Regions from separate parts of the Homo sapiens genome. Here region 2 is linked to region 1. The links come from fine-mapping of genetic effects on gene expression. A gene starts in region 1. The other region holds a variant in brackets. All regions are shown on one strand. Distances are between the middles of the regions.

Region 1 (5,380 bases):
GTCTGGGCGCGGCAGCTCATGCCTGTAATCCTAGCACTTTGAGAGGCCGAGGCGGGCAGATCACTTGAGGTCTGGAGTTCCAGACCAGCCTGGCCAACATGGTGAAACCTGTCTCTACTAAAAATACAAAAATTAGCTGGGCATGGTGGTGCGCATCTGTAATCCCAGCTACTCGAGAGGCTGAGGCAGGAGAATAGCTTGAACCCGGGAGGCAGGGGTTGCAGTGAACCCAGGTTGTGCCATTCCACTCCAGCCTGGGGTACTAGAGGGAAACTCCATCTCGAAAAAAAAGAAAGAAAGAAAGAAAGAAAAAAACAGATGGAGGAAGATGCCACAAGTCAAAAAACATGGGCAGCTTCTAGTCGATTGTCCCCTAGAGCCTCTAAAAAAGAATGTAGCTCTGTTGATACCTTGCTTGCCCAATGAGACCTGTGTAGGACTTTTGACCTACATAACTGTAAGGTAATACATTTATGTTGTTTCAAGCCACTGAATTTGTGAGATTCTGTTAAAACAGCCCCAGGAAGCTAATATAGGTGGTCAGCTTAGGAAGGTTTCATAGAAAATGTTAATTTTGATAAACTTTTGAAGGGACATTATTGGTGGAGAAAAAGATGGGGAGATTGATGTTGGAATTTGAGTCCATCAGAATTTTTTTTTAACATTTCAAGGATGTGTGATACCTACCTAGAATATTTATAAGCCAAAGCTAGAGGAATAAAACAGTATTATGTAATTGGTGCTAAATTCCCCAGTGAAGTCAGAGGCAAGGCATTCTCTAGAATTTTTCTCAGTAATGTTACTTGAATTGTGTGCAACTTCACAGATTTAAAGGCTGACAAAATACTTGCTTTACCTGGTTGGTTTTAAATTACTTAAGTCAGTACAGAAAGCAGACAGAATCTCCAGCTTCCACAAAGCCCACCCCTGAATGTCACCTGGAGCTTAATATTCTTATCACTCTCCTTTAATCAGATCTGTGGACCCTGCTGATTTGTTTTCATTGGATCCTTCTGAATAAAAAATAATTGGATCATGAGACACACATATACACACAGAGACAGACAAGAAAACAGACACACATTGAGACAGGAGAAATAGAGCAAAAAAAAAAAAAACCCTTCCATATGTACCTTTTTTCATTAAAACATATTTATTGAGGACCTGTATATGACATGAACATACATCATGTTAGGGTTCCATCAGTGAATGAGACAGGCAAGGTCCCTGTCTTTACAGAGCTCACAGCCTGGTGGAGGACATAGACAAATAATTATGCAATTTATAGCAGAGTGGAAAATGTAAGTTGCTATGAGGGAATACAGAAGGGGCAACCAACTCAGTCTGGGGATGGGAAGGGAAAAGTGTGTTGGGGAGGCTTTCTGGAGAAAGAGAACTTCTACGCCACTCACTGTCAAAGTGTGGTTTTTGGATCAGCAGCATCGGCAAACCCTGGGAGATTGTATACATGGACATTCTCAGGCCCATTAAGCCACACCTATTAGGGCTAAAATTCTAAGGATGGGGCACGGAAATCTGTGTTTCATCAAGCCCTCTAAGTGATTTAGATACATGTAAAGTTCATCGAGAATCAGAGCATCACACCTGAACTGCACATTAGAATCACTTGGGTCACTTTCCACAGAAATGCTGTGGCCCCATGCCCAGAGATATTAATTTAATTGGACTGGGATAAAGCCCTGGTATCAGTACTTTCTCAAGTCTCAGGTGATTACGATGTGATTTTACTGTGCAGTCAGGGTTGAGGCTACTTCTGTAGAACAGCTGAGGCTGGGGGCTAGGACAAGGGCTGGAAGGATCTTACAGGTGGTGTGCAAAAGCCCAGAGGTCAGAGAAAGCCTGATGTAGTGTGTTTGGGGACCGGACAAGGCTACATACAACAAAACCCCATGATTTAAAATAAGGTTTGTAGATATAAGTTCATTTGTTCATTGTAGTACTTCTTAAACTTTAACAAGCATAGAAATCATCTGAGGGTCTCATAGAAACACACAGATTCTGATTTGGTAAGTAGGAGCAGGGGACTGAGGTTCTGCATTTCTATAAGATCAGCGATGCTGATGTTGCCGGTCTGCAGACTGCACCTCACCTTAGCAAGGTTCTATTGCCCCAGCTTTCCCTGAGGGTACATGTCAGTGGATGGGAACTGCAGAAGGATGTATCTATGCATTAGTCCCAGGGCTGACATAAGGGCACCTAGTTGGGGTGAACTGTGGATGCCCATTGTTGTGTGGACATGTTTTCATGGTAGGGAGGAAAGACGCAGCCTCGCCCAACCTCCTAGCCTGCTCTTCTGATTATTATCCATCAAGGTCGTACTGCTTTTAGCTCAGCAGTAACTCCCCTCTTTCTCTCCTCGTCCCTCCCACGCCAATCTAGCTGAGTGCCTCCCCCGGCCAGGCCAGCCGACCAGATCATTAAGTGACCGCCGGAGTGCTCCGTAACGCGCCAGCCAGCCAGTGAGGCGCTGGGCGAGGCGGGGGCTCTCCTGGGACCCGTCTCCCTCTTCCCACCTTCCCCCGCTGACCGCGGCGGTGCCTGCGGCAGAGCCTCCCTCTGCAGCAGCCCCTTGCACTTGGCTCGCACTTCTGGGCGCTGTCCATGGTTGCAGCAGCTTTCGGCGCGCCACGTCAGGAGGCCGCAGCACGGCCCTGCGATTGGCGGAGGAGCCCCTCGCCATACCCCTGCACCTCCGCCCACGCGCCACGGCGCCCGAGGCGCGTGCCAGAGAGCGTGCCCGGCGCGCCCCGGGGCTCCTGGGCGGCACACCCACTTTCCTTATTAGGGCAGAGTCGGGTGCCCAGAGCCGGCGGCCGGGCGAGGGGTGGGGCGGGGAGCCCTGGGCGAGACGGTCGAGGGCGCAAGCACAGCCTCCGCCGCAGCCGCCTCAGAGCGGCAGGAGGGAGCAGTCGGTCGCTGCGCCCCGGCGGGCCACTTTCCCGGGACCCCGCTCGTCTTCCTTGGGCCGAGATTTTCCACTGCGCCCCTCCGAGTACCCGGGTTCCAAACCCCTAGCCACGACATGGAAGAATTTTTGCAACGCGCCAAATCTAAACTGGTAAGTTGAGTGAGCAAAGCTGTGTGTGTGCGCGCGCGCGTATGCTAATGGAAAGGTGGAGAGGAAAAGGTGTTGCAGCAGAGGAGGAAGAAACAACTTTGCCACGGAGTTATCAGGGTGTGCGGGTTGTCTCCTGGAAGAAATCTCAGGAACTCTGGCTCTTAAAGCTGGCAATCTGTCTCCAGAATCCTCCACCGCAACCAGACGAGGTGCAGAGCTGAAGGAGGTTGTGGCCTGGCTGAAGTTGGGTCGCTTCAGTCCAGCTTCGGTCCCTAAATCAGCAGTTTGCTCCTGAAAGCTAAGGGATAAATGGGTGTGGTCTTCCTTGAGATAAAGAGCCCAGCCTTCTGCAGATGCATTACGTGTAAGTGTAAAAGGAAAAAAAGAGACCCTTAGAACTGTACTTCAGCTGGAGGTGACAAAAGTGAGGAAGTCAGGGTGCTGGGTAGCAAGGACATGTGTGGTACTGGAGAATCCACAGAATAGAGCTTGCTCCACTGCAGGAGTTAGGGATATTCTAGTGTGTCTTGTGTCTCGCTAATTCCTGTTCACATCTGTAAATTGGGGCGGAGGCAGAAGGGGAAAGCTCTAACTGTTGGTGTTCTGGAGTTTACCAGATCATCGTTCTCCCGGGAGCAGACCTGTGTGTTAGCCCATGTTTACCATATCACTGTCCAAACAGTGAATGGGCAACTCCACTGTGTATGTTAACAGTTGCTACACATTCTGAAACAACAGACTCTAGCAGTTTCTTAATTCCAAACTGTTTTGGCTCTCCAGCACAGCAGTAATAAACATAATGGAAATGTTTCTGTTTTGGCAGAAAAAAAAAGAAAAGCCTGTACTCATTTAGAAGCAATATCTTTAAAGAACTGTAAAAGCACCTTTTACAGGCCTGGCATAGAAAGAAATGCATAATTTATGATGCCTTTAACCTTTAAGCCTTCATAGAAGCCAAAATGTAAAGTCTGCATTAAGGTAATGTTTTAATCACAAGGCAGGATATTTGCAGGGTTATTACTGTAACTCATTTACCCTCGCACAACAAAGGGAGTGCAGGAAGGGAGGGCCCAAAGATGCCTGAACCACCATTCAGAGTGCAGACGGAAGTGTGATCCTTACAATGGTCTAACTGTAACTATCTTGTAAAAGACCATTAAAGTTGATAAGTGCTTATATAAAACTTTCTACCTGAAACCTCCCAGAGAGTTGAACGTTTGTGGAGATTTCCGAGTTGAGGAAGTTTGTGATCATCTCTGTGTTTATTGACCCTTTTATAGTTTTACTAGAGCACATGGATGAAAATACTAATTTCAGAAACTCAAGTAAGTATTTGGCATTTCTGATAGTATAAGTACATGTTCTGTTCTTTACCTAGTAATGAAGGAGAAATGTTCAAAAATGAAAGACAATTTTGGCAACTGTGCGTGTGTGTGTATGAAAATGGTAATCAATGACAAACACAGAGTTCTGGGCTGTATCTGTTTTTCACTCCCATAACATTTATTTATCAATATTTTCACAATAAACATTTAGACTGTGGGGTCTGATATGAGCAAGAGGTTTGTCTCAATTCTGAGGAGCAGTTGCTGGAATGGAAGTTTCCCTATTTCCGAGTAATGAGTTGAAAGTAATCTGTAATTTATTTACCCTTCATTAGACGAGCAATTGCTCTACATCATTAAAAAAAAAAGGACAGGAAAGAGAAGCGGTTGTTTGAAATATTGTTACCAGTTTCATGTCTTAGCCAGAACAATTACTGCTAATTTTATCGTTTCTTGGAATAAGCTTCTTCTAGAAATCATGATTAACCTTTCACATCCAGCCACAGCAAAGGTGTGTTGGTCACTTTTAGTGTCATATTTTCCTGAGAAGTTACATTTTCTAGGTAATAAGATTTTTACTTAATGTATGACACTCAAATATAGTAGTAGATAACATTCTCCTTTAGAGGGTAGATAACCTTTTTCTTGGAGAAAAAGAATTAAGTCAATGTCATTCACTTGTGGGAAATTTATTTATAATAAAAAGGTAAGATTTGGCCGGGTGTGGTGGCTCACGCCTGTAATCCCAGCACTTTGGGAGGCTGAGGCGGGTGGATCACCTGAGGTCAGGAGTTCGAAACCAGCCTGGCCAACATGGTGAAACCTCATCTCTACTAAAAGTACAAAAGTTAGCCAGGCATGGTGGCGTGTGCCTGTAATCCCAGCTACTAGGGGGGCAGAGGCAGGAGAATCACTTGAACCTCGGAGGCGGAGGTTGCAGTGAGTCGAGATTGTGCCACTGCACTCCAGCCTGGGC
Region 2 (5,380 bases), 200 kb after region 1:
GTCTGTGATCATCCGGACACAGCCTTTACTCACGCAGAGGAAAATAGTTGTGTTACATCTAATGTTTCAACTAATGAAGGTCAAGAAACAAATCAGTGGGAACAAGAAAAATCATACCTAGGTGAGATGACAAATTCAAGCATTGCCACAGAAAATTTTCCTGCTGTCAGTTCTCCCACCCAACTGATAATGAAGCCAGGCTCTGAATGGGATGGCTCTACCCCAAGTGAGGACTCCCGAGGTACCTTTGTGCCAGATATTTTACATGGCAACTTTCAAGAGGGTGGGCAGCTGGCCTCTGCCGCGCCTGACTTGTGGATAGATGCTAAGAAGCCCTTCAGTTTGAAAGCAGATGGTGAGAATCCTGATATCCTGACGCACTGCGAACATGACAGCAATTCTCAGGCTTCCGACAGCCCTGATATATGTCACGATTCTGAAGCAAAGCAAGAGACTGAGAAGCACCTCAGTGCTTGCATGGGACCTGAAGTGGAATCCAGTGAGCTTTGTCTCACTGAGCCAGAGATAGATGAAGAACCCATTTATGAGCCTGGACGGGAGTTTGTCCCATCCAATGCAGAACTCGATTCTGAAAACGCAACTGTGCTGCCTCCAATTGGCTATCAAGCAGACATAAAGGGCTCCTCTCAGCCCGCCTCTCATAAAGGTTCACCTGAACCTTCTGAAATAAACGGTGACAACAGTACAGGTTTACAAGTATCAGAAAAAGGAGCCAGCCCAGATATGGCACCAATTTTGGAACCAGTTGACAGAAGAATCCCAAGGATTGAAAATGTGGCAACTAGCATTTTTGTAACTCACCAAGAGCCAACTCCAGAAGGTGACGGTTCTTGGATATCAGACAGCTTTTCTCCTGAAAGTCAGCCTGGTGCAAGAGCTTTGTTTGATGGTGATCCACATTTATCCACAGAGAATCCTGCCTTGGTTCCTGATGCTTTGCTAGCCTCAGACACTTGTCTGGATATAAGCGAAGCTGCCTTTGACCACAGTTTCAGCGATGCCTCAGGTCTCAACACATCCACGGGAACAATAGATGACATGAGTAAACTGACATTATCCGAAGGCCATCCGGAAACGCCAGTTGATGGGGACCTAGGGAAGCAAGATATCTGCTCATCTGAAGCCTCGTGGGGTGATTTTGAATATGATGTAATGGGCCAGAATATCGATGAAGATTTACTGAGAGAGCCTGAACACTTCCTGTATGGTGGTGACCCTCCTTTGGAGGAAGATTCTCTGAAGCAGTCGCTGGCACCGTACACACCTCCCTTTGATTTGTCTTATCTCACAGAACCTGCCCAGAGTGCTGAAACAATAGAGGAAGCTGGGTCTCCAGAGGATGAATCTCTGGGATGCAGAGCAGCAGAGATAGTGCTTTCTGCACTTCCTGATCGAAGAAGTGAGGGAAACCAGGCTGAGACCAAAAACAGACTGCCTGGATCCCAGCTGGCTGTGCTGCATATTCGTGAAGACCCTGAGTCCGTTTATTTGCCGGTAGGAGCAGGCTCCAACATTTTGTCTCCATCAAACGTTGACTGGGAAGTAGAAACAGATAATTCTGATTTACCAGCAGGTGGAGACATAGGACCACCAAATGGTAAGAAACATTCCATTCTTCCACTTCCAAGAAACTGCTGCGTTGATTAAACTAGTGCATATTTGTAAGACACACTCTTCCTACCAATGAGGGTAGAGAGAAAACTAACTACATTTTCAAGGCATGCCTCACTAAGTCCTGTATTATAACAGCAGTAAAATCTAGTGCATATGTAATACCTATTCCTGATAGTGCACGAGAAAATCGAATGACTCTACAAAATAAAAATATTTTCTAGCTGGGCGCGGTGGCTCACGCCTGTAATCTCAGCACTTTGGGAGGCCAAGGAGGGGGGATCACCTGATGTCAGGTGTTCGAGACCAGCCTGGGCAGCATGGTGAAACCCCATGTCTACTAAAAATACAAAAATTAGCTGGGCGTGGGGGCAGGTGCCTGTAGTCCCAGCTACTCGGGAGGCTGAGGCAGAAGAATAGCTTGAAACCAGGAGGTGGAGGTTGCAGTGAGCCGAGATCACACCATTGCACTCTATCCTGGGTGACAGAGCGGGACTCTGTCTCAAATGAATGAATGAATAAATAAATAAAATATATAAAAAATATTAAATTACCTCTTTTAGATGATCATTTGCAAGGATCACAAATCACACAATGTGTTAATTAAACCTT[T/G]TTCTCCTCTTCTCACTTTCAACTTCCACTTCTAGGTGCCAGCAAGGAAATATCAGAATTGGAAGAAGAAAAAACAATTCCTACCAAAGAGCCTGAGCAGATAAAATCAGAATACAAGGAAGAAAGATGTACAGAGAAGAATGAAGATCGTCATGCACTACACATGGATTACATACTTGTAAACCGTGAAGAAAATTCACACTCAAAGCCAGAGACCTGTGAAGAAAGAGAAAGCATAGCTGAATTAGAATTGTATGTAGGTTCCAAAGAAACAGGGCTGCAGGGAACTCAGTTAGCAAGCTTCCCAGACACATGTCAGCCAGCCTCCTTAAATGAAAGAAAAGGTCTCTCTGCAGAGAAAATGTCTTCTAAAAGCGATACGAGATCATCTTTTGAAAGCCCTGCACAAGACCAGAGTTGGATGTTCTTGGGCCATAGTGAGGTTGGTGATCCATCACTGGATGCCAGGGACTCAGGGCCTGGGTGGTCTGGCAAGACTGTGGAGCCGTTCTCTGAACTCGGCTTGGGTGAGGGTCCCCAGCTGCAGATTCTGGAAGAAATGAAGCCTCTAGAATCTTTGGCACTAGAGGAAGCCTCTGGTCCAGTCAGCCAATCACAGAAGAGTAAGAGCCGAGGCAGGGCTGGCCCGGATGCAGTTACGTTGCAGGCTGTCACCCATGACAATGAATGGGAAATGCTTTCACCACAGCCTGTTCAGAAAAACATGATCCCTGACACGGAAATGGAGGAGGAGACAGAGTTCCTTGAGCTCGGAACCAGGATATCAAGACCAAATGGGTAAGCAAAAAGCTAGATTTATTTTTTTTCCTGAAAAGCAATTTATTTAGAAACCTGGGAAATGGTTAGAGGTTATGGAATATGAGGAATACCTGGATGATAGCAGCTTTGCTTATATTGAATGCAAGGCACACCATCAGTAAAAGCAGCTACTAGATAACTATAACCATAATGATAATTTATGTACATTTTCAGCCAAAAAGCCCCTTCAATTTTCATTCAGTCTTATACCTACCCCCCAACTGCCACCCCACCTACTTGAATACCTACATGACTCTTCAACAGGCAGTTGGGAATACAAGGAAGTGACACTAACATTTAATCAGCACCTACTATGTGCAAGGCAGTTTGCATACATTATCTCATTTAATCCTAACATGCCAGTGGGGGGAATGGAAGGAGTAGGGTTGAGTAGGGGGATTCAAGGCTCAGAAATTTTCTATAATTTGCCTAGAATTAAGTAACCAGAGTGAACACCTGGGATTCGAAGCTTGCCACCTCCAAAGCCTGTACTTTCTCAGTTGACACACCGCTTAGCATACAGAGGCATTTTCATATTTTCAAATACAAGGCATTTTCTGGTTTTATGTAAGCACCTAACTTATAGTTAGATAAGAGACAGGCTCCACAGCAGTCTCCAAATCTCAGTGTAACACATTCATTCCCTAATTGGCAGAGAAATTGGCAAACTGTCATTAAATCAGTGATTCATTCATTCATTCATTCACCATGTGGTTTTTGAGAGCTTGCTCTGTGCCGTGGTTCTGGGTAGCCAATGGGCATATATCAGGGAATAGGATGTCATCACTGCCCTCAAGCTTCCAGTCTCTGCTGAAACTGTTTAGCATTCTTCATTTCTCTTCATTTGTGTTTATGAAGCCCACCTGCTTCCAGGGACAAAAGAACAAATTGTGAAAAGTAACTTAAGTAACGGGGAAAGTCATGTTTTCTCCTTAAAATGTAATAGAGAAAAGATATCGGCCAGGTGCGGTGGTTCATACCTGTAATCCCAACACCTTGGGAGCCCAAGGTGAGTGGATCACTTGAGGTCAGGAGTTTGAAACCACCCTGGCTAACATGGTGAAACCCCGTCTCTACTAAAAATTCAAAACTTAGCTGGGGTGGTGGCAGCACCTGTAATCCCAGCTACTTGGGAGGCTGAGACAGGAGAATTGCTTGAACCTGGGAGGTGGAGGTTGCAGTGAGCCGAGATCGTGTGACTGCACTCCAGCCTGAGTGACAGAGCCAGACTCCGTCTCAAAAAAAAAAAAAAGCGAGAAAAGATATATTTTTGCTACTCAGCTTGGGAGTGTAAAGGACTATACACATCACATACCCACAGTGAGTCAAGGAATCTGGATTCCAGCCTGCCTCTACCATGACTGATTATACATTTTAGGATTAATCCCAGGCTTAGGTTTTCTCATGCGTAAAATTAGTGAGTTGGGCTGAAAGATCTCAAGGCTTCCTGCAGTATTAAATTCTGGGAACTTAATTTGTGTGGAAACAGAATGTGTCCAGGGGAGCTTTGGCATTCACAAATTACATTTCTTGATGAAAGGAACAAGGACAATGGAAAGAATAGCTGGGGTATGTTGAGGATTAGCCAAGTGCAGAAGGGGTTAAAAGCTCTACCATATTCCAGGGCAGCTTCATAAATCCAGACATTGTCAGCTGGCCTAATCCTTCTTTCTTCCTGTCAAGCTATTTTCTTCCAGAGAGACCCCAGATCCGTTATCAGAAAGAGAGTAGCAGATGGATCCCAGCAGCCCTGCTGGCATTGTTATAGATTGAGCTCAGAACTCAGGCAGCCATGAGTTGGCTGAGCTATTGTTTGGCTTCTTGTGTGCATTTTGCACATGCCCCGAGATCCAACAGATGACAGTCAGTGTTCAATTGTGCCACCAGCACCTTTTCTTTCAACAAGATTTCTTTGCTCATCCCTTTCTGCTCAGCTTTTGTAGTACTGAAACTTTTCTCACAATGGGGATGGGGCAGATTTTCCCTCCGGCATGTGTATTATCTTTTGCATAAATAATTTACTGTGAATGTGTAAGTCTCCCTCTGTGCTAGATTTTGGGAGAATAAAGAGTTGTCTAAAACTGTGGTTCTCTAAGTGGGGTCCTAAGAACAGCAGCATCAGTATCACCTGAGTACTTGTTAGAAATGCAAATTATCGGCTCCGACTCAGACCTCCGGAATCAGGAACTCTGGGGGTGAGGCCCAGCCAGCTGAGCTTCAGCAACTCCTGATGCCCTCCAAAGCTTGAGAACCACTGGTTTAAAACATACTGTCAGCCGTCTAGGAGTTTACAGTTTAACTAAAGAGTTAGACATAA

What was found. PIP is the estimated chance that this variant, and not a neighbour inherited with it, causes the effect.
Region 2: its variant is fine-mapped to the expression of PRUNE2 in whole blood (INTERVAL, PIP above 0.99).

The regions. Positions count from the first base shown.
Region 1 is chr9:76,903,627-76,909,006 of GRCh38, reverse strand. PRUNE2 (prune homolog 2 with BCH domain) reads left to right here and starts at 2,893. Exons shown (of 19, transcript NM_015225.3): 1 at 2,893-3,079. The coding sequence starts at 3,044. RefSeq lists a silencer at 2,764-2,823.
Region 2 is chr9:76,700,999-76,706,378 of GRCh38, reverse strand. It overlaps PRUNE2 (prune homolog 2 with BCH domain), which reads left to right. Exons shown (of 19, transcript NM_015225.3): 8 at 1-1,618; 9 at 2,280-3,042. Among named protein-coding and RNA genes, the nearest start is that of PCA3, 61 kb to the left of the region's middle. The variant T/G (reference allele first, on the strand shown) is at 2,245.